Homo sapiens: one gene and its partners. The protein of the gene in region 1 purifies or fractionates together with the protein of each later gene. This does not show direct contact. Each region holds a gene or a part of one and is shown in the gene's direction. Other genes may lie near its edges.

The links.
Region 2: the proteins of OR5F1 (region 1) and GNPNAT1 purify together in Homo sapiens (affinity purification with mass spectrometry; 2 studies listed by BioGRID and IntAct, with this or other methods). This does not show direct contact.
Region 3: the proteins of OR5F1 (region 1) and WDR44 purify together in Homo sapiens (affinity purification with mass spectrometry, with the first as the bait; one large-scale study listed by BioGRID). This does not show direct contact.
Region 4: the proteins of OR5F1 (region 1) and FTO purify together in Homo sapiens (affinity purification with mass spectrometry; 2 studies listed by BioGRID and IntAct, with this or other methods). This does not show direct contact.
Region 5: the proteins of OR5F1 (region 1) and HMGCS1 purify together in Homo sapiens (affinity purification with mass spectrometry; 3 studies listed by BioGRID and IntAct, with this or other methods). This does not show direct contact.
Region 6: the proteins of OR5F1 (region 1) and CCDC25 purify together in Homo sapiens (affinity purification with mass spectrometry; 2 studies listed by BioGRID and IntAct, with this or other methods). This does not show direct contact.

What each region holds. Positions count from the first base shown.
Region 1 is NC_000011.10:55,993,181-55,996,043, reverse strand, and holds OR5F1 (olfactory receptor 5F1), read left to right. Parts: upstream 1-1,418; coding exon 1,419-2,363; downstream 2,364-2,863. UniProt on the Homo sapiens protein: Odorant receptor.
Region 2 is NC_000014.9:52,778,151-52,781,607, reverse strand, and holds part of GNPNAT1 (glucosamine 6-phosphate N-acetyltransferase), read left to right. Parts: intron 1-867; coding exon 868-929; intron 930-3,149; coding exon 3,150-3,297; 3' UTR 3,298-3,457.
Region 3 is NC_000023.11:118,391,106-118,394,605, forward strand, and holds part of WDR44 (WD repeat-containing protein 44), read left to right. Parts: intron 1-1,526; coding exon 1,527-2,166; intron 2,167-2,949; coding exon 2,950-3,080; intron 3,081-3,500. UniProt on the Homo sapiens protein: Downstream effector for Rab11 which regulates Rab11 intracellular membrane trafficking functions such as endocytic recycling, intracellular ciliogenesis and protein export.
Region 4 is NC_000016.10:53,707,156-53,710,655, forward strand, and holds part of FTO (alpha-ketoglutarate-dependent dioxygenase FTO), read left to right. Parts: intron 1-3,500.
Region 5 is NC_000005.10:43,303,413-43,306,912, reverse strand, and holds part of HMGCS1 (hydroxymethylglutaryl-CoA synthase, cytoplasmic), read left to right. Parts: intron 1-3,500. UniProt on the Homo sapiens protein: Catalyzes the condensation of acetyl-CoA with acetoacetyl-CoA to form HMG-CoA, which is converted by HMG-CoA reductase (HMGCR) into mevalonate, a precursor for cholesterol synthesis.
Region 6 is NC_000008.11:27,755,641-27,759,140, reverse strand, and holds part of CCDC25 (coiled-coil domain-containing protein 25), read left to right. Parts: intron 1-1,051; exon of another isoform or gene 1,052-2,370; coding exon 2,371-2,422; exon of another isoform or gene 2,423-2,838; intron 2,839-3,500.

The sequences.
Region 1 (2,863 bases):
CTTCTTTTTGAATTTAGATCTAGAAAATCTATAGCTTCATGTCTTTGCAGGATAAGAATCACAAATAGTAACGGCAAAAACCAACACAATTTCAAAATCATAAATATATAATAATTTTTAAATCTATTGTGCTATTTGCTCAGGTTATAGGATTTCTTTAAAAATCATACAATAGATATTTATTAACTACCCTTTCTCACTACCTTTATACAGGAAAATAGCTGAATTTTAAGTCACACCGAAAAAAAGAGGGGTGCACCCACATACTAAAATGGCACAGGGGGAGAACGATAGTTTAGTCACGCACTTAGAATAAGCTAAAAATACAGACACAGAGAGAGTCAGTGTAGATAGACAATTATTTTCCAGAGGTCACAAACCACTTTATGATGTAAGACTTTCATAATGTCTGATTCCATACATCTCTATGTGATCATATTATATTTAATATTGTTTTGAGACAGAGCTCCTGCCTGTAGAGAATTGACTCTGCAATTAATAGCTATAATCTACTCCCCATGGTTACCCTGTCTTCTTGGAGAAAAACAAAATACAAGTGCAGTAACAAGTATTTAATCATAAGGCATCTTAAGATTTTACCAATAGATAATTCAATTTTCCACTGCATTTTTTAAATTAAATTTTCTTCTTTTATTTTTAAGCTCCAACTAAGAACCTCTGATAAAAAAAAAATAATAGTTACTTACTTAGGTAAGTAGCCATCTGGGGAGGAAGTTTTAAAGATTTGGTAATGTTATTAAGTAAGGTGGATAGGTACCCTGTCGGCTGCTTCTTGGAATTAACTTGATAATGGACATTGTAGTATAACAATCATTTGGTTTACTTTTAAAACATCACTAAATTATTTTTAAGGATACAATAGATGTGAAAATATTGATTATTTGAAATGGTCACTCTTTTTGCTGCTTAGGGCTACACATAAGCCATTCTCAAGAGATAAAGTATGAATTTTGGAGTTGAAGAATGTACAGAGTGATTTTGAGAAAATTAAAAAAGAATGCATTGAGTTAAATTCACATACCTGCTCTGAGAATGGGAGAAATTTTAGCAAGAATATTTTTATTATTTTACATTTTGGATGTGGGCTAGTATAGAAACAATAGAACAAAGTATTTGTATTCACAGAAATAGAGTATGTGGACTTCAGCCAGTGATTTGAGAAGCCTACAACTCCAATTCAATACAATCAATTGTTTATTACATGTAAATGCTTACCCATGGGTCCTCTAATATTCCTCTTACTTCAGTAATTATGACATATTATTCTGGGTTTTTGTTTATTTATTTGCCATATGTGACTGTCCTATTAACACTTCTTTTTTTTTTTTTTTGTAAACTTTTAGAGAGGAAAATATGTGCAACTAATACAAAGTTTACACAAAATATATTTCTCATAAATGACCAGAAAAAATTATACCTCACTGACTGAGTTCGTCCTATTGGGATTAGCAGACACGCTGGAGCTACAGATTATCCTCTTTTTGTTTTTTCTTGTGATTTATACACTTACAGTACTGGGAAATCTCGGGATGATCCTCTTAATCAGGATCGATTCCCAGCTTCACACACCCATGTATTTCTTCCTGGCTAACCTGTCCTTTGTGGACGTTTGTAACTCAACTACCATCACCCCAAAGATGCTGGCAGATTTATTATCAGAGAAGAAAACCATCTCTTTTGCTGGCTGCTTCCTACAGATGTACTTCTTTATCTCCCTGGCGACAACCGAATGCATCCTCTTTGGGTTAATGGCCTATGACAGGTATGCGGCCATATGTCGCCCGCTGCTTTACTCCTTGATCATGTCCAGGACCGTCTACCTAAAAATGGCAGCCGGGGCTTTTGCTGCAGGGTTGCTGAACTTCATGGTCAACACAAGCCATGTCAGCAGCTTGTCATTCTGTGACTCCAATGTCATCCATCACTTCTTCTGTGACAGTCCCCCACTTTTCAAGCTCTCTTGTTCTGACACAATCCTGAAAGAAAGCATAAGTTCTATTTTGGCTGGTGTGAATATTGTGGGGACTCTGCTTGTCATCCTCTCCTCCTACTCCTACGTTCTCTTCTCCATTTTTTCTATGCATTCGGGGGAGGGGAGGCACAGAGCTTTCTCCACGTGTGCCTCTCACCTGACAGCCATAATTCTGTTCTATGCCACCTGCATCTATACTTACCTGAGACCTAGTTCCAGCTACTCCCTGAATCAGGACAAAGTGGCTTCTGTGTTCTACACAGTGGTGATTCCCATGTTGAATCCTCTGATCTACAGCCTCAGGAGTAAGGAAGTAAAGAAGGCTTTAGCGAATGTAATTAGCAGGAAAAGGACCTCTTCCTTTCTGTGATTGTTTGGCTAAAAATCTCAACTAAAGAGCATATTTTAGTTACTTTCAAAGTCTAGTTTATATCTACATTTTTTTATTAGAATATTTTCTCAGTAAACACATTCTGTTAATAGTTGTATCCAGTTAGGGATAAAGAAAGTTACCAAACTGATTCAAGATCATGGCATGTTGACTTTACTATGATTCTATATATCTTTGTTAGGTTCTCCAAAATAATGAATATTTTTAAATGAAATTTCATCTAGAAATCAAATGGAATATATGTTCACAGACCAAAGCCACAATGATACATGAAACTGGAAATATAAAATAATTTCTATTATCCATTCTTTTTTTCTTATGCATTATTTTTCACCATTTATGATTTTTAAGGGATTGTTAAATATCACATAGGTGAGAAATGCTATAAGTTTAATATATATTTCTCCTTTGTATTCACTGAACTACTTCTTGGGGGAATAAAATCAAATTTTAGGACTATAGTTTTAATAGGAATTCTA
Region 2 (3,457 bases), on another chromosome or scaffold:
AATTGTTCTGTAAGGTGGATCAATTTGGTATAGGCATAGAGAAACCAAACAACTTAGCAGTAATGCACAAAATCCCTAATGTTACTCTTTTAAAAAAAACAACTCTGAATATACCACGTTAGCATAAATTTGTTTCCACATGGTAAAGGGTTCAGATTATTCCGTTCTAATTATGATACATCTAATGCATGTAGTGCCCTTTCATCCCTCAATAACTCACATAAAATAGTAAATAAAAAAAGAGGGAGAGAAAACCTTAATTCAATGAGAATAAGGTAGGAACACTTGGGATGTGTTCTGTCACACTTAGGAATTTCGGTGGGGTTTCTGTACTAGACATTAATTTTATTTGGATATCTAAAATAACTTGCTAGTAAGCAAGGAGTAGAATGATGGATATATTCATGAAAAGGTTACATTTTGGTGATGTTGATCCTGATATTTGTTTAAAGACAATGGGGTGGGAAGGTTGGGGACATAGCCAAAACAAGTTTAGGTCACAACTTGACTCATACTATTTCCTCTAATAAGTAAAAACATCTTTAAATTATTAACTTTTAATAGTAGTACTCTCATACTAGTAGGAAACAAACTTTTGGGCTAATCAGATTTGCCCCAGCTTCTCTGTCATATTTAAAAACAAAGGAAATGTTCAGCTATTACAGAATATTCTATGATCTCTCCTTCTCATAAGTTGTAGAAATACATACTGAAACAGCCTTCACTGTATAATATTTTTTGCATTTGATTTCTGTTAAGTTCAAGTTTACAAAATATACTACTTATTATCAGTAAATTCTTACCAACTCGTTTTAGCTAAAAACAAAAGTAAATGCTTACTCCTTTAAACATTGTAAATATTTTCAGAGAGGAAGAGTAGAAGATGTTGTTGTTAGTGATGAATGCAGAGGAAAGCAGCTTGGCAAATTGTAAGTAGGCAGAAACAAGGTAACCCTGGATAAATTTTGTTCCAATTTAGTTTCTTAACAAGATACTTGTTTGAAGTTCTTTTTGGCTTCATTAATTCTGAACTTATTCTCACTCTAATAGTTTAGACTGAATTTCATGAAGAAATAAAGTATTATTATACATATTTTGCCTTAAAGTTTGAAAATTGGAAGCATACTTCTTTACAGACAGTAACATCTTTAAATTACTAACTTTTTATAGTAATGCTCTCGTCCTAGTAGGAGATAAACTTTTGGGCTAATCGGATTTGCCTCAGCTTCTCTGTCATATTTAAAAACAAAGGAAATGTTCAACTATTACAGAATATTCTGTGATCTCTCATTCTCATAAGTTGTAGAAATACATACTGAAACAGCCTTCACTGTATATATCTAAATCATTTAAAATAAATATAAATAAGTGGTATTGATTTATTGCCATTTTATAAGAACTTGTAGTTCTTATTTATTATAATTTTTAGTTTTTGAGACAGGGTCTGTTTTTGACAGCTCTGTCACCCAGGCTGAGGTGCAGTGGCTCAATCTCAGCTCACTGCAGCCTCAGCCTCCTGGGCTCAAGCAATCCTCTTCAGCCCCCCAATTAGCTGGGACTACAGGTACACGCCACACCTGGCTAATTTTTAAAAATTTGTAGAGATGGGGCCTCATCATGTTGCTCAGGCTGGTCTCAAACAGTGCTCCTGCCTTGGCCTCCCAAAGTGCTGGGATTACAGGTGGGAGCCACTGTGCCTGGCCCAAGAACTTGCTTTTTAACACTAACTCTTCTGAGTTTTAAGGAATTAACAAATATTAAATACCTGCTTATGTACCAGATGCTATTCTAGGTATTTGGAATACCTCAGTGAACAAAACAGACCGATTTCTTGTGTTCTAGTCTATATAATTTATGTTTTTTTTTTTTTTTTTTTTTTTTTTAAGAGATGGGATCTCTTTCTGTTGCCCAGGCTGGAGTATACAGTGGTACGATCACAGCTCACTGCAGCCTTGAATTTCTGGGGCTCAAGTGAGCCTCTCGCCTCAGCCTCCCAAGTAGCTGGGACTACAGGTGCATGCCGCTGCACCCAGCTAATTTTTTATAGAGATAGGGTTTTGCTATGTTGCTTTGGCTAGTCTCGAACTTCTGGACTCAAGTGATCCTTGGCCTCCTAAAGTGCTGGAATTACAGGCATGAGCCACTGCAACCAGCCAGGCATACTTCAGTCAAGGTCTTTTGTTTTTTTTAAAAATAGGATTTTTTAGTCTGTTCAAACATGGGCAGACCCTTCAAGTTTGTATATCTTTTATAGTTTTTATCCTCTAAGGCACTTAGATCCACACTTTAATACTGGGTTTGGATTCATTAAGAAATTTTGTATAGATGTAGACTTGCTTTGTTTCCACTTCATATTAATTAGACCAATCTTGAGTTAATCTGATACACACCTTCACAAATATTAAAGTAGCTTTAAAAATGATTAAAGAGCAAAGCTATTATGTACTCATTTTATGTGGGTATGTCGACTGCTCCGAAGTTGTTTAAATAGATTTAAATAAAGAATTTTTACAAAATAATTTTGGTCATTTTTTTTTTTAAAGGTTGAGTTTTTAGTGTTAACATGCATCTTAAAATTCGTTTTTCTTTTTCAAGACAGAGACTCACTCTGTTGCCCAGGCTGGAGTGCAGTGGCACAATCACTACTCACCGCAGCCTTGACCTCTCTGGGCTCAGGTGATCTTCCCCCCTCAGCCTCTGGAGTAGCTGCGACTTTAGGCATGTGCCATCATGCCCTACTAATTTTTATATTTTGTAGAGATGGGGTTTTGCCGTGTTTCCCAGGCTGGTGTCAAACCCCTGGGCTCTAGCGATCGCCTGCCTCGGCTTCCCAGAGTGCTAGGATTACAGGTATGAGTCACTGCACCTAGCCTTAAATTTCATTTTTAAAGAGGGCTTAGGGTGAGTTTTGTATTTGTCCTGTTTATTAGTGAGCTGGAGATTACTAGATAAAAGTATATTTGACTCTAAGTAAAAATGCTTTGGTGATTTAAATGCTTATCAACTTACATGAATGCAGTGGGAAAAGCCATAATCTAAACCTGTTTCTAAGGAAACTTAAGTTTTATAACATTAATTCATATTGTTACTAGAATCAATTTTTATTAATAAATGCTATCTCCTCACCCTACCCCCTTTTTAAATTTCAGGTTATTATCAACCCTTACTTTGCTAAGCAAGAAACTGAACTGTTACAAGATTACCCTTGAATGTCTACCACAAAATGTTGGTTTCTATAAAAAGTTTGGATATACTGTATCTGAAGAAAACTACATGTGTCGGAGGTTTCTAAAGTAAAAATCTTGTAAGAAAATTGTCAAAGGGGCTAATGCTACAAGGCTACACTCTTCCTAGAGTTGAAATATTTTGTTGCTGCAGCCGAGTGACCTCCATAAATACTGGACTGAAAAAACATTGTAATACTACAAGTATAATGACATTTAGAAGATTACTTTGG
Region 3 (3,500 bases), on another chromosome or scaffold:
ATCTTCTTTTCCAGTAGTTCCTTCCCTTCAGGTTATAAAAGTGCTGGGTCACTTTATCGAAGTCTTTTTGCATTTATAGCTAAGCTTTTTGAAAACTCAGACCGTGCTAATGTCTCTGTATCTTCACCTCTTATTCAATCTCAAATCCATTGTAATATGACTTCTGTTATCACTGTTATCATTGAGGTTCTCAGTGCTCAGTAACCACCTAATTGACAAATTGGTTGGACTCTGGTTAGTTTTGGTGAAAGCAAGGTAATTTCTAAGGTTAACAATTTGAAGTTTGAGAAAAACTAACATATAGAACATGCTAAGAAATCAGGGATGAATATTACTGAGCAGCAGTAATACCCAGTTCAAGTTAGCATGAAATTGTAGTAAACCAGATTAGGATGGTTCTATGATGCATTCTGTTAACTTTCTGAAGCCAGGGAATTGAGAAAGCAGAAGTTGTTCATGGTTGGACATGGTGGCAGGATAAGTGATCTGGGAGATTTAATATTAGTAATGACAAGACTGGGGAGAAAATATATTCTAAATGTTGGCAGAAGATAATAGAAAGCCTGTTTATATTTTAAGCTACATATAAGAAAGGGGGCCAGGCGCAGTGGCTCATGCCTGTAATCCCAGCACTTTGGGAGGCTGAGGCAGGTGGATCACATGAGGTCGGGAGTTAAAGGCCAGCCTGGCCAACATGGTGAAACCTCGTCTCTACTAAAAATACAAAAATTATCCCGGCGTGGAGCACCTGTAATCTCAGCTTTTAGGGAGGCTGAGGCAGGAGAATTGCTTGAACCTGGGAGGCAGAGGTTGCAGTGAGCCAAGATCGTGCCACTGCACTCCAGCCTGGGTGACAGAGTGAGACTCCATTTCAAAAAAGAAAAAGAAAGGAAGGGAAAAGACAAGGTGGACTGGGTATTTGAACTCTTTTCATGGTCCTGCCATCAGTCCACATAGTGGAGTTTAGGTGTAGTCTGTTTAAGAATGTTAATCTCCCTGCATCTGCTGGTTTTTGGGTCATAAGCTTGAGTTCAGAGCTAAACAACTTGAATTCTTCTCCTGGGGATTTGGATTATCGTGGTTTGGTTAAGTAGGCTCAAACCATTAGGCTGGTATTACAACAAGTTTGGCATAAATATGTAAATGAATCAGGATATTGAGTCTTAATGTAAGTTTAGGATTGAACTTGATTTTACAGGATTATTTGATCTTTTGTACCTAAGTATTAACACAAATTTGCTATTATGAGGGTTAAGAGTATAGATGCTGGAATCAAACTCCCTGGGTTTATACCTGCTTCATCACTTACTAGCTTTGTGACCTTGGACAAATCATTTGATTAGTTCCCTAATTTGTAAAATGGTGACAGTAGGAGTAGAATCTCATAAGGTTGTTGTAAAGATTAAAATATGTAAAGTGTTAAGAACATTGCCTGGCACATACTAAGTACTATGTAAATGATTAGCTGTTACTGTGTTCTTATAAATAGCTTCATTTTTAAAAACTACTTTTAACCCTTTCATCAGATTATTGAAAGTATTATTGAGGAGAGTCAGAAAGTACTACAGCTTGAAGATGACTCTTTGGATTCCAAAGGAAAAGAACTCTCTGATCAAGCTACTGCCAGTCCTATTGTGGCTAGAACAGATCTGAGCAATATACCCGGACTGTTAGCCATAGATCAAGTACTACCGGAAGAATCCCAAAAGGCAGAGAGTCAGAATACATTTGAAGAGACTGAATTAGAATTAAAAAAATGCTTTCCTTCTGATGAAACCTGTGAGAAACCAGTAGATGAAACCACGAAGTTAACTCAAACAAGTTCAACTGAGCAGCTTAATGTGCTTGAAACTGAAACAGAAGTATTGAACAAGGAAGCAGTGGAAGTCAAAGGAGGTGGTGATGTTTTAGAGCCTGTGTCCTCAGACTCCTTATCTACTAAAGATTTTGCCGCTGTGGAAGAAGTGGCCCCTGCCAAACCCCCAAGACACCTTACTCCAGAGCCTGATATAGTGGCTAGTACAAAGAAGCCTGTTCCAGCACGCCCACCTCCTCCAACTAATTTCCCACCTCCTAGACCCCCACCTCCTTCTCGACCTGCTCCACCACCAAGAAAAAGGAAAAGCGAATTGGAATTTGAGACTCTGAAAACTCCTGATATAGATGGCAAGTATTAATTGAGAAATCACTCTGTTGGTTGGGCACAGTGGCTCACGCCTGTAATCCCAGCACTTTGGGAGGCCAAGGCGGGCGGATCGCTTGAGCTCAGTTCAAGACCAGCCTGGGCAACATGGCAAAACCCCATCTGAGCAACAACAACAAAAAAAAATACAAAAGTTAGCTGGCCATGGTGGCACGCGCCTGTAGTCCCAGCTACTTGGGAGGCTGAGGCAGGAGAGTTGCTTGGGCCTGGGAGGCAGAGACTGCAGTGAGCCAAGGTCGCGCCATTGCACTCCAGCCTGGGTGATCAGAGTGAAATCTTGTCTCAAAAAAAAAAAAAAAGAGAGAAATAACTCTTTGTGGTGAAATTTTGGAGTTGAAACTGTTTACCTTTCTGCCTTTATTTCACTTTATTAAAAAACTCACTGGCAACCAAGTTATTAAAATTATTTCTTTAGTAATAGACAAAATGTAAAAATGTTTACATTGGTGAAAATTACTTTACTGTAATTGAACACTTCAGCAGACTTCAAACTTTCAATTCTGTTGCCATCTGAGAGAGAGTGGCATGGTGAAAAAAACTTGGGATTTGGAGACCTAAAGTCTGAATTCAAGTCCTGCATCTTTTTTTTGTATGAGCTGTATAGTCTTGAGGAAATTAAATAACTTGTTTGAACCATGGTTTCCCTGTATAGGAAATGAGAGTAATCAAGCCACTTTCCTCACAGGGTTGTTACAAGAATCAAACAAAAAGGGTTGTTATTATTGTTGTTATTATTATCATTGCAGTTCCCAAAGAGAATATTACGTCTGATTCTCTCCTAACCGCAAGCATGGCTTCAGAAAGTACGGTTAAGGATTCTCAGCCTTCTCTTGATTTGGCAAGTGCTACCAGTGGAGATAAAATAGTTACCGCCCAGGTTGGTGAATTAGTGTTCTGTTTCATATAGACTTTATCAGCTCCCTGCAACTGGCTGGTTTGTTGATGATTATTCTGTATTCTCCAGGCCAGATTTTTCTTTGTCCTCCAAACCTGACCCCCTTACTTCTCTTGATCAGCTCTGCTACATGCTAACTGGGTGAGCCTAGCAAGCTGTTTAGCATCTGGATCTCAGATGCCCCATCAATAAAATGGAGGAAAAGTCCTTCCTTGAGGGTTTGAAATGAGCTAAAATATGCCAAGTATCTAGCAGGTAATAGGTATTCAAAAAACGACAGATGCTACTATTTGTAATATTGTTGGTACTAATAAACACCAACTATAGTCTATGTTTGTCCTGTATTGGTCAGAATTGAAGACTTTTTTTTTTTATAATTTCCTTTTCCTAATCATAGAAAAA
Region 4 (3,500 bases), on another chromosome or scaffold:
ATTGAAATCAAGGCATCAATAGGGCCATACTCCCTTTGAAGGACTCTAGGGGAAACTCCTTCCTTGCCTCTTCCAGCTTCTAGTGTCCCTGGTGTTCCTTGGCTTGTGGTAGCATCACTTCATAACTTCTCTGCTTCCATCTTCACATGGCCTTCTCTCTGTTTCTGTGTCTCAAATCTCTCTCTCCTTTCTGTTAAAAGGATGCCAGTCATTGGATTAGGACCCGTCCTAAATCCAGGATGATCCTGAGATCCTTAAGAGCCTCAACTTAATTACATTTGCAAGGACACTTTTTCCAAATAAGGTTACATTCACACGTGCCGGGTTTTTGGATTCGGACATATCTTTTTGGGGAACAATATTCAAATGCACTGCACCCTTTTACATTCCTACCAACTGTTAGTAGGAATGTAAAATGAGAGTTCTACTTGTTTCATATCTTTTCATCGCTTGTCAGTCTTTTACATTTTAACCATTCTAGTAGGTGTGCAGTGATATTTGATTTTAATTTGCATTTCAGTGATGACTAATGAGGTTGCATATCTCTCTTTTTGTAAATCTTTATTGAGTGAGGTATAATTTACATACCATAAAATTCACCTGTTTTCAGTGTAGGACTCAATGGTTGGTAGCATATTTGCAGAGTCGTGTAACTGTCACCACCGTCTTATTTTAGAACAGTTCCATTCCAGAAGAAACTTTGTATTCATTTGCAGTTATTTCTCAATTCTACTTCCTCCCTAGGGAACCACGAATCTACTCTGTTCTTTAGATTTGCCTTTTCTGGACATTTTTATATAGATGGACTCATACAATATGTGGTCTTCTTTCACCCAGGATGTTTTTGAGGTTCATCCATGTTGTAGCATATATTGGTACTTTGTTCCTTTTTATTACACAGTGGATAGAATTCCAGTGTCAGGCCGAGCATGGTGGCTCATGCCTGTAATCCCAGCACTTTGGGAGGCCAAGGCAGGTGGATCACCTGAGGTCAGGATAACTTAGATCAAGACCAGCCTGGCCAACATGGTGAAACCCTGTCTCTACTAAAAATACTAAAATTAGCCAGGAGTGGTGGCACATGCCTGTAATTCTAGCTACTCGGGAGGCTGAGGCATGAGAATCACCTAACCTGGAAGGCAGAGGTTGCAGAGAGCCCAGATTGTGCCACTGCATTCCAGCCTGGGTGACAGAGTGAGACTGTGTCTCAAAAAAAAAAAAAGAATTCCAGTGTCAGGATATACCATATTTTGTTTATCTGTTCACCAGTTGATGGACATTTGATTTGTTTCTACATTTTGACTATTATGGAAAATGCTACTGTGAACATTTGCACCCTAGTTTTTGTGTGGACGTGTTTTCATTCCTCTTTGGTAGATACTTAGGAGTGGAATTACAGGACTTATGGTAAATCTATGTTTAACATTTTAAGAAACTGACAAACTGTTTACTTGTGTGGCTACACCATTTTACATTTCCCATCAGCCATTTTGAGGGTTACAATTTTGTCACATCCTTGTCAACACTTGTTGTTGTCTGTCTTTTCTATTGTAGCCGTTATAGTGGGTGTGAAGTAGTATCTCATTGTGGTTTGATTTGCATTTCTCTGATGGGTAATAATGTTATGCATCTTCTCATGTGCTTATTGGACATGTGTATATCTTCTTTTGTGAAGTGTCTGTTCAAAATCTTTGCCCATTTTTTTGTTGGATTGTTTGTGTTCCTATTATTAAGTTTTATGAGTTCTTTATATTTTCTAGATATAAATCCTTTGTTTACTATGTGTGTTGCAAACATTATCTTCCATTCATCTAGGTTACTTAATAGTTTTTAAGAAAGGTCCACTTTATCAATGTTTATTTTTATGATTCATGCTTTTTGTGTCATATCTATGCAGTCTTTATCCCAAAGTCACAAAGATTTCTTTTTTGCTTTTTAAATTAAACTTTGTCATCCCCATAATGGGCACTTAGTTTTTATTTTTCTTTTCTCTTTGAAATAACTTAGATCATATTTTCTCTCTTGTGATTGCTTATGCTATGGACTTTTATGCTGTTTCCAAGTCTGGAGGGTGAATAAGAAGGTTGGACCACATAGCTTTCTACGATTAACATTTATTTAATTTGTGTTAAGCACATGAGAATACTATACGGTATTCATGCATTTTTAAAATGAACTTTTCTTCTAAGGCATATAATAGAACAGTCCAGATAAGTATTTGATGGTTTGAGTTAGAACCATGGCGTCTACTATTTCCTTACTGTAGGGATAGGGGATTCATACCCCGTGCCTCAGTTTCTCCAGTCATTAATGAGGTTAAGAATAGCTGCTTCTGTGGGTTGGTGTGAGGACCCAGTGTGATGAGGTCTAGCTACTATTCCAGGGGTAGAGTAGCATGCCCTTGATTGAGTTTGGTGGCCTGAGGGGTCCTCTGCTGGGGTGGGGCTGGCCCTATGCATTTTTTCCCAGATGTTATAATTTATTATTTTGAAATGATTTAAAACTTATTGAAGAGCAAGAGTAGAACCTAGAGCTCTCATAGACCTGTTTGTCCATATTCACAGGTTAACATCTTGCTGTGTTCACTTTATTGCTCTCTTTCTCGCCATATATATCCACATGAACAATTTTTTTAATGAACCATTGCAGAGTAAGTCGGAGACATCAGTCCTCTTTACCCCTAAATAGTTCAGCATATATTTCCTAAGAACATGGACATTCTCTTGCATACAAATATAAACACAATCAATTGTTAATTTCAGAAAAAGTTAACATTGATATAATGCTATTATTTCATCCAAAGTCCATATTCAAATTTTGCTAATTGTCCTAATAATGAATTTTATAGCATTTTTTTCCTGGTCCAGGTTCCATCTGGATTGCATATTACCTTTCATTGTCAGGTCCCTTTGGTCTCTTCTCCTTTAATCTGGTGTCCTTTCATGTCCTTTAAATTGGTTCCTCATCCTTTTTCTTTCAAGACATTGACATTTGTGATGTGTGCAAGCTATCTTTTATTTATTTATTTATTTATTTATTTAATTTTTTTGTAGAATGGCCCTGTATTCTTATTTGTCTTATGTTTCCTTATGATTAGATTCAGATTTTGCCTTTTTTTTTTTTTTTTTGAGACCAAGTCTCGCTCTGTTGCCCAGGCTGGAGTGCAGTGGCGCGATCTCAGCTCACTGCAACCTCCACCTCCCGAGTTCAAGCGATTCTTCTGCCTCAGCCTCCTGAGTAGCTCAGACTACAGACACGTGCCACCACACCCAGCTAATTTTTGTATTTTTAGTAGAGATGGGTTTCACCATGTTGGCCAGCCTGATCTCGAACTCCTGACCTCGTGATTCACCTGCCTCGGCCTCCCAAAGCGTTGGGATTACAGGCGTGAGCCACCGTGCGCAGCCCAGATTTTGCATTTTTGCATGTATATTTTTGAGGAAAGATGGGGCCTCTAGAGGTCACATATTTATAATCCACATATGCCTCCTGGCTGTAGG
Region 5 (3,500 bases), on another chromosome or scaffold:
AGATTAGAAGTCTAGTACCATTTCATTTATTCAACATTAGCATCTACCATATGCCAAACAGTGGGTTGGGTACCGGGGACACAAAAATGAACAAAGCACGGTTCCTGCTCTCCAAAAGCTCCTTGTTTAATGCAGAGAGGCTAAGCCTAAATAATAGAGGAGAAACTTGGCAGTTTGAAATATAAATTGAATTTTCCTTATCTGAACAATGCTTGGGACCAGCAATGTTAAAGATTTTGGATTTTTCTGGGTCTTGGAATATTTGAGAAAACATACCATTTGAGCAGCCCTAATCTGGAAATCCAAAATCCAAAATGTTCCAATGAGCATTTCCTTTGAGCATCATGTTGGTGCTCAGAGAGTTTCAGATTTTGGAGCATTTCAGATTTTAGCATTTTTGTATTAGGAATGCTCAACCTGCAGCATCTTGACAATGGTTAGACATGCAGTTTGGAAAAAACTGTTGGCCTATGACAGAGAAGAGAGCAGAGGCAGAGCTCACTTAGGAGAGACTGATGCTGAAGTCCTTCCCCAACACAGCCATTGAGGAGCTAGGTTAGGACTTCCCTTGCACCAGTATCATCAGCTAGTTTCCCTCCCCCTTTTTTCCCCTTTCCAGTTCTCTTTCATTTCCAGATTTATTCTCAGAATAACTATATAGGTCTTTTATGTATTCTAGGCAGGAAGCATTCAGAAAACATTAACAAGGCTTCCTTATCTTGCTTTACTGATTCTGGAAATAGCATATGGAGTTTCTTTTGTCCACCAGAGGGAGTGAGCCTTCACTTTAATGAGACTTATTTAAGACTTTAGTCCTCTGTTGGTACTACTTTGTTGGAAGACTTGAAAGGTTTACAAAGTTCTCTGAAAGTTGCCTTTTCTCGCCTTTTTTAAGGATAGAATTTAAAAAGAAAATGTGTGTATTTTATTATAAATACAGAGTCCTCATTATTCTCTTTAGACTTATTTTATGGTGAATATAGTACTCTGAAAATAATAAAATGCATTATCTGTAAAAAATTAAAAACGTAATTTTTTTAACCATCAGATTTTTAAAATTATGTTCTACTTGAAAGTTTTTGTGATTTATCTCTTTTTTTAAATTTTTTAAATTTTTTTTTTTTTTTTTTTGAGACGGAGTCTCACTCTGTGACCCAGGCTGGAGTGCAGTGGCACGATCTTGGCTCAGATCTTGGCTCACTGCAACCTCCGTCTCCCAGGTTCAAGTGATTCTCCTGCCTCAGCCTTCCAAGTAGCTGGGATTACTGTTGCCCGCCACCAAAACCAGCTAATTTTTGTATTTTTAGTAGAGAGGGGGTTTCACCATTTTGGCCAGGCTGGTCTTGAACTCCTGACCTTAAGTGATCCGCCCACCTCGGCCTCCCAAAGTGCTGGGATTACAGGTGTGAGCCATCACACCCGGCCTCTTTATTCTTAAATAGTGAATTAACCAGAATATTCTATTCTCTGGTAGGGTAAAGAGTGAATACCATAATGTGAGCACCTCAGACCTGTAGCTAGTCTTTTTTTCCCTAATTTATATCTAACTATATCTAGCCTATTTCAGAGAGCATTTGAAAGGACAATGTAAGAGCACATGCTCAATAGGATAGTTAAAAGTAACATTTGCTGGGCACGGTGGCTCACGCCTGTAATCCCAGCACTTCGGGAGGCCGAGGCGGGTGGATCACTTGAGGTCAGGAGTTTGAGACCAGCCTGACCAACATGGTCAAACCCCATCTCTATTAAAAATACAAAATCAGCTGGGTGTGGTGGCACCCGCCTGTAATCCCAGCTACTTGAGAGGCTGAGGCAGTAGAATCGCTTGAACCTGGGAGGCGGAGGTTGCAGTGAGCCGAGATCACACCATTGCACTCCAGCCTGGGCAACAAGAGCGAAACTCCGTCTCAAAAAAAAAAGTAACATTTGAGACCAGAAACTATTAACTTTCTGTTCTTCTAAATGTCATGAAAGCAATTATTTCTCTGTATTAATTTTCCTGTCAACTTAATCACTCTCTTTCTGAATTTGAACCAAAGGCTAAATATTTCAGATTAGATGGCTTTTTACCAAGAACATAATGGAAAACACATTGGCTGTCAGAAACCCTCAGAGAATGAGTAATATTGACTGACTTGGACAATGTAAAAATGTTTTTTTCCATCAAAGTCAGAATTGTGTTTCACTTTCCATTTGATGTATGTGGGTTATTTTAGTTAACCTACGTTTTTTGTTTGTTTTCAAATGAAACATGTCATGTATTTAATGTAGGACATTTAGGAGTCATAGAGTTGTATCTTATTTTAGGAGTACTATAATACAAAGAATTGATCAGAGCTGGTCAGACTGTGACAAATACAGATTAATTCTGAAATGGAAGCCTTGCATTATAACTTTTTATAGAGAATTGTACAAGCATTATAAGGATAATTAAATATATTGCCAGTGTTGCTACATGATGCTCTTAAAAGACTAAAGTGAATTTATTAGTGAGTACAAGTATATTGCAAACTGGTTTATACCTTCAAAAAGATATATTCCCTGTTCACTTTATTTCCAATAGTGTTAAAAACCACTGAGCCAGGCAAGGAAGACCATACTGTCTTCAGCATATTTAAAGCAGTTTGAAGAGTTGAAAAGAATCTAAAGGGTAGCCTTGTGGGAAAGGCTGGAAAGGTGGTTACTCCTACTTTGGTGACTTAAGAGATCATATGTAGGAGCTTATAAGCCTATGGACTAGTCTTTTTCTGATAACAGTAGTTGTAGGGCTCTTTCTTGTGGACTATCCAGTATCTTATTTTACTATAAACTTAGAATCCATGCCTAGTGGCATATTAGGCAGCCCTTTTATATTTTCATTTCAAATTCAGCAAAGTGGGCACCAACTTTATCAAAAAATTGATGGGGAGAGTTTGTTGAAGCTCAGAGTGAGGATGGATGTAGAACATTTCAAGTGCTTCATATCCAGAAAATCAGTAGTCCTCCATCTGAGTTGTAGACACAGGAAAGGAGTTGAAGATGAATGGAGTAGGAATGTAAAAGCCTTATCTTTACCCTCCTCAGCTTTAGGTCTTAACAAGAATGAGCCTCCCTTAGTCTTTCTTTATGCCCCTGTCCCTGAATGTTGGTGATGACATTGTTTTTCCTGTATTGAATACAAAAATATGGCCAGTAATTTAGGAATCAAGAGGATATAATTCGGAAGTAGACTGTTGTGTTTAGGAGTTTTTCTTTCCATTGTGGAATTGAGTAGCAGCGGTATATATGCTATGTCTGGTAAAATGGGCCATACAGTAGTCTAAGACATGAGGAGACCTTAAGGAGCTTGGACTTAGTTGAGGTGACCAGACTATTTAATCTGCTTAGGTGCCACAGCAAAATACCATAGAGTAGGTGGTTTAAACAGCAGACATTTATGATCTCATAGGTTTGCAGTCTGGAAGTCAGGGTGCCAGCGTGGTTGGTTCCCGATCAGGGCTCTCCTCCTGGATTGCCCGTGT
Region 6 (3,500 bases), on another chromosome or scaffold:
GAAAGGGTAACAGGGAGAGGAAGATAACAAGGATAAGAGGGAACTATGGCTGTAATTTAAACTTTGAATAAATGTTTAGAAAGATTGGAGAAGTCGTTTGCTTCTTTTTTAAGGAAACTCGCTCAAGATAGTTTGTTTATAGAGCTGGATTTTTTTTTTCTCTTATACTTTCATCCATTCTCCCCTGCTCTTTGTAGAGGTGTATCTATCATATACAAACCTGAAATTGGTGTATATTGATAAAGTTGCTGTATTTTGGCAGTGATATTCCTGTGTGTGTTTTGGTTCTTTCTCTACTTATGTATGAATATCATTAAATATATATTGAATTATTTGGGTATTTCTTTTGACAAAATTCTACATCAGAGACCTTTAAGAAAAATCAGAATTCAATCTATTATAGGTACATAGGGAAGAAGATGTTGTAAATAGAGAACTGGCTTAAGGCAAATAAAAGTTGGAATGGGTAAAGTTACTTTTCAGTTATCTTGGTTACTAGTGTGATATTTTCCTAAGATTCTGAAAGAGGATAATGAGATATGTAATTTTTAGATTTGCAAAAAGCACAGGTTTTTCTGGCTGGAAAATGTCCAGCTGAAGGTGATAATTAGTATGAATCTCTCACATGGGAATGCAAATGAGTAAGTGAACCACTTGGAGAAATGTAAGTCAAATAAGATGTTATGTCCATTTCTGGCTATCACTAATGATTAAGAGTAAAACCTCGAGTCATCATAAACTGTGTGCCAAAAGTGCCTAATATTTTTCTGTATGCATAGTGAATAGCAAGATGACTAACCTCTTTAAAGAGGGCACTTTTATATAGAATCATACAGTCTACATCTTGTACTAGGTGTGAAGGTGACCATTTTCACCTCTAAAACATTTATTAGTGCTTAAGAAAATGGCTAGAGAAACATAATGGGATGTAATGATGCCTCTTTAGGATTTTCTGAACATTCTTCAGTCTGGAAAGGTAAGGACCAAGGAAGCAGTATGACTAATGTATTAGTCCATCTTGCATTGCTATAGAGAAATACCTGAGACTGGGTAATTTGTAAAGAAAAGAGGTTTAATTGGCTCATGGTTTGGCAGGCTATACAGGAAGCATGGCAGTGTCTGTTTCTGGGAGGCCTCATTCATAGAACTTTTAATCATGGCAGAAGGCAAAGGGGAAGCGAGGCGGCTTACATGGCAGGAGCAGGGTGCCGGGGCTGTGCACTTTTAAACAGATCTCATGAGAACTCTATCATAAGAATAGCACCAAAGGGATGGTGCTAACCCATTCATGAAGAATCCACCCCCATGATCCAGTCACCTCCCACCAGGCCCCACTTCTAACGCTGGGGATTACAATTCGACATGAGACTTGGTGGGGACGCAAATCCAAATCATATCAACTAAAGTTAACAGAATCACGAAGTGGCGATAGTGTTACCTTGTTTGTTGTGTGATGCTGGGATGCGGAGGGGGCATTTCTGGGTATTGGAAAGAGAAAGTCAAGTTCATTGGGTGAATTGAAAACATGAAAATCTCATATCCTGAATGTTGCATAGATTTTAAAAGGTTTAATTAAATTGATAGATGATAGATCCATCATGAAAGGTAAATTTAAGGGGTGGGGGACATTCTGAATGTTTTTAGGACAATGTCAGTAAAGGGCAGTGCTCACCCAAGAGACATATATTGGTATCACTGTCAGAATATAGGGCCGGATGAACTGTTGTGCTTGTGAATTATTGGGTTACATTATTGAATTGTGACCCATTTAATGACGTGTTCTGCTTAGCGTCTTTAGGCCCCACCTAACTCTTCCAGCTCTCTATTCGACATTCTCTTTGGATTGTTTTGCTATAACTTGAAATTTGGGATGTCACAAACGAAACTGTCATCTGTTTCCGCCAAACTGTGGTTCTGCTAATCTCCCAGGCTGGCAGCATTGGAGACTTGCTGACTTCTTTCATCCCCCACTCTTTTCACCTGAAATTCCTTTCCTTGGTTTTGCTCTAAGTCCTATGCTTCAGTCAGGGGCCAACCAAATCTCACTGCCTCCTTTTTATCATGAAGCCTTTGATCACTGATAGTTCTTTTTATATCTTGAAAAATCACCCTTCCCAGTACAGTTAATATTTAGTATCTCTACTCATCTTGGCACTTACTCACAGCTCCATAATTCAGTGTTTCTCGTACCTCTTCATGGTGATGGGGAGCCCTTTGGAGGTGGTGACTGTGCTTTATACTCCTCATGATGCTTCACATGTGGCAGGCATGGAGTGAAGACTTTTTAGAACAGAATGCTTTAAATGGCATGTGGCCTGAGGAGATGATTGTCTTGTACCTCTTGCTAAAAGTGGTTTTCATTCTTTGTAGGTTTCATGTGGACAAACTCTCTTCGGCTCATGTATACCTTCGATTACATAAGGTAACTGAATTTAAACATGGATTCTTGACTTTTCTCCTGATGATGCATCATATCTTGTTCTTTATCCTTTGCAATTAAATTGCTTACAGTAATAAGTTGGTACGCAAATCTAAAAGTTAACAAATGAAGACGTGTCTTCCCTCTGACCCAGAAAATCACTCTAACATTCTAGATGATTTTTGAGATATAGAAGGAGGCAGTGTACATATTTCCCAGCTAGATGCACTGCTTATCCTGTCACTTCCGGTGTGCTGTCTGTCATCTCTGCTTTCCTTTTCTTTCAATTCAGTTGACACTCCCAGACTTTCTGTCTCCTCCAGTGGATATCATGTGTGGCTCATGTGATTCTCCTGCCTCAGTGAAGGGCCCGTGTTCCCAGTTATCATGGGCTTCTTTAGGAAGTTTAAAAGAACATGCTAGTAATAAAGGAAAAAAATTTTTAGTGGCCCCTAGTAATACAATACCACTATTTTTCCAATCTATCTCTATTCATATATTTTATATAGTTGAATCATAGGGTATATATGCTTGCGAGTGTACTGCTTTCTTTTTGATAAACTTTCAACTTTGGAAAAATGTTAGATTTCCAGAAAAGTGGCAGAAGTGATACAGAGTTCCCATCTACCCTTCACCTAGTTTCCCCCATCATCAACATCTTATATTACTATGGTAGATTTGTCAAGACAAAGAAACTAACCTTGGCACATCGCTGTCACCTAAACTCTGGACTTTATTTGGATTTCACCAACTTTCTATTAATGCCCTCTTTTTGTTCTAGTAGCCAGTCTAGAGTACCATATTACATTTAGTTGTGTCTGCCTAGTCTCCTCTAGTCTATCACAATTTCTCATTCTTTCTCTGTTTTTTATGACCTTGACAGTTTGAGAAGTACTGATCAGGTGTTTTGTAGACTATTGCTCAGTTTGCATTTATCTGATATTTTTTCTCGTGACTAGACGGGTTATGGGTTTAGGGGGAGAATATCACAGAGGTGAAGTGCCTGTCTCGTCACAGCATATCGGGTGCGTGTATTACCGTGACTTATCATTGATGACGTGAGCCTTGATGGCCTGGCCAG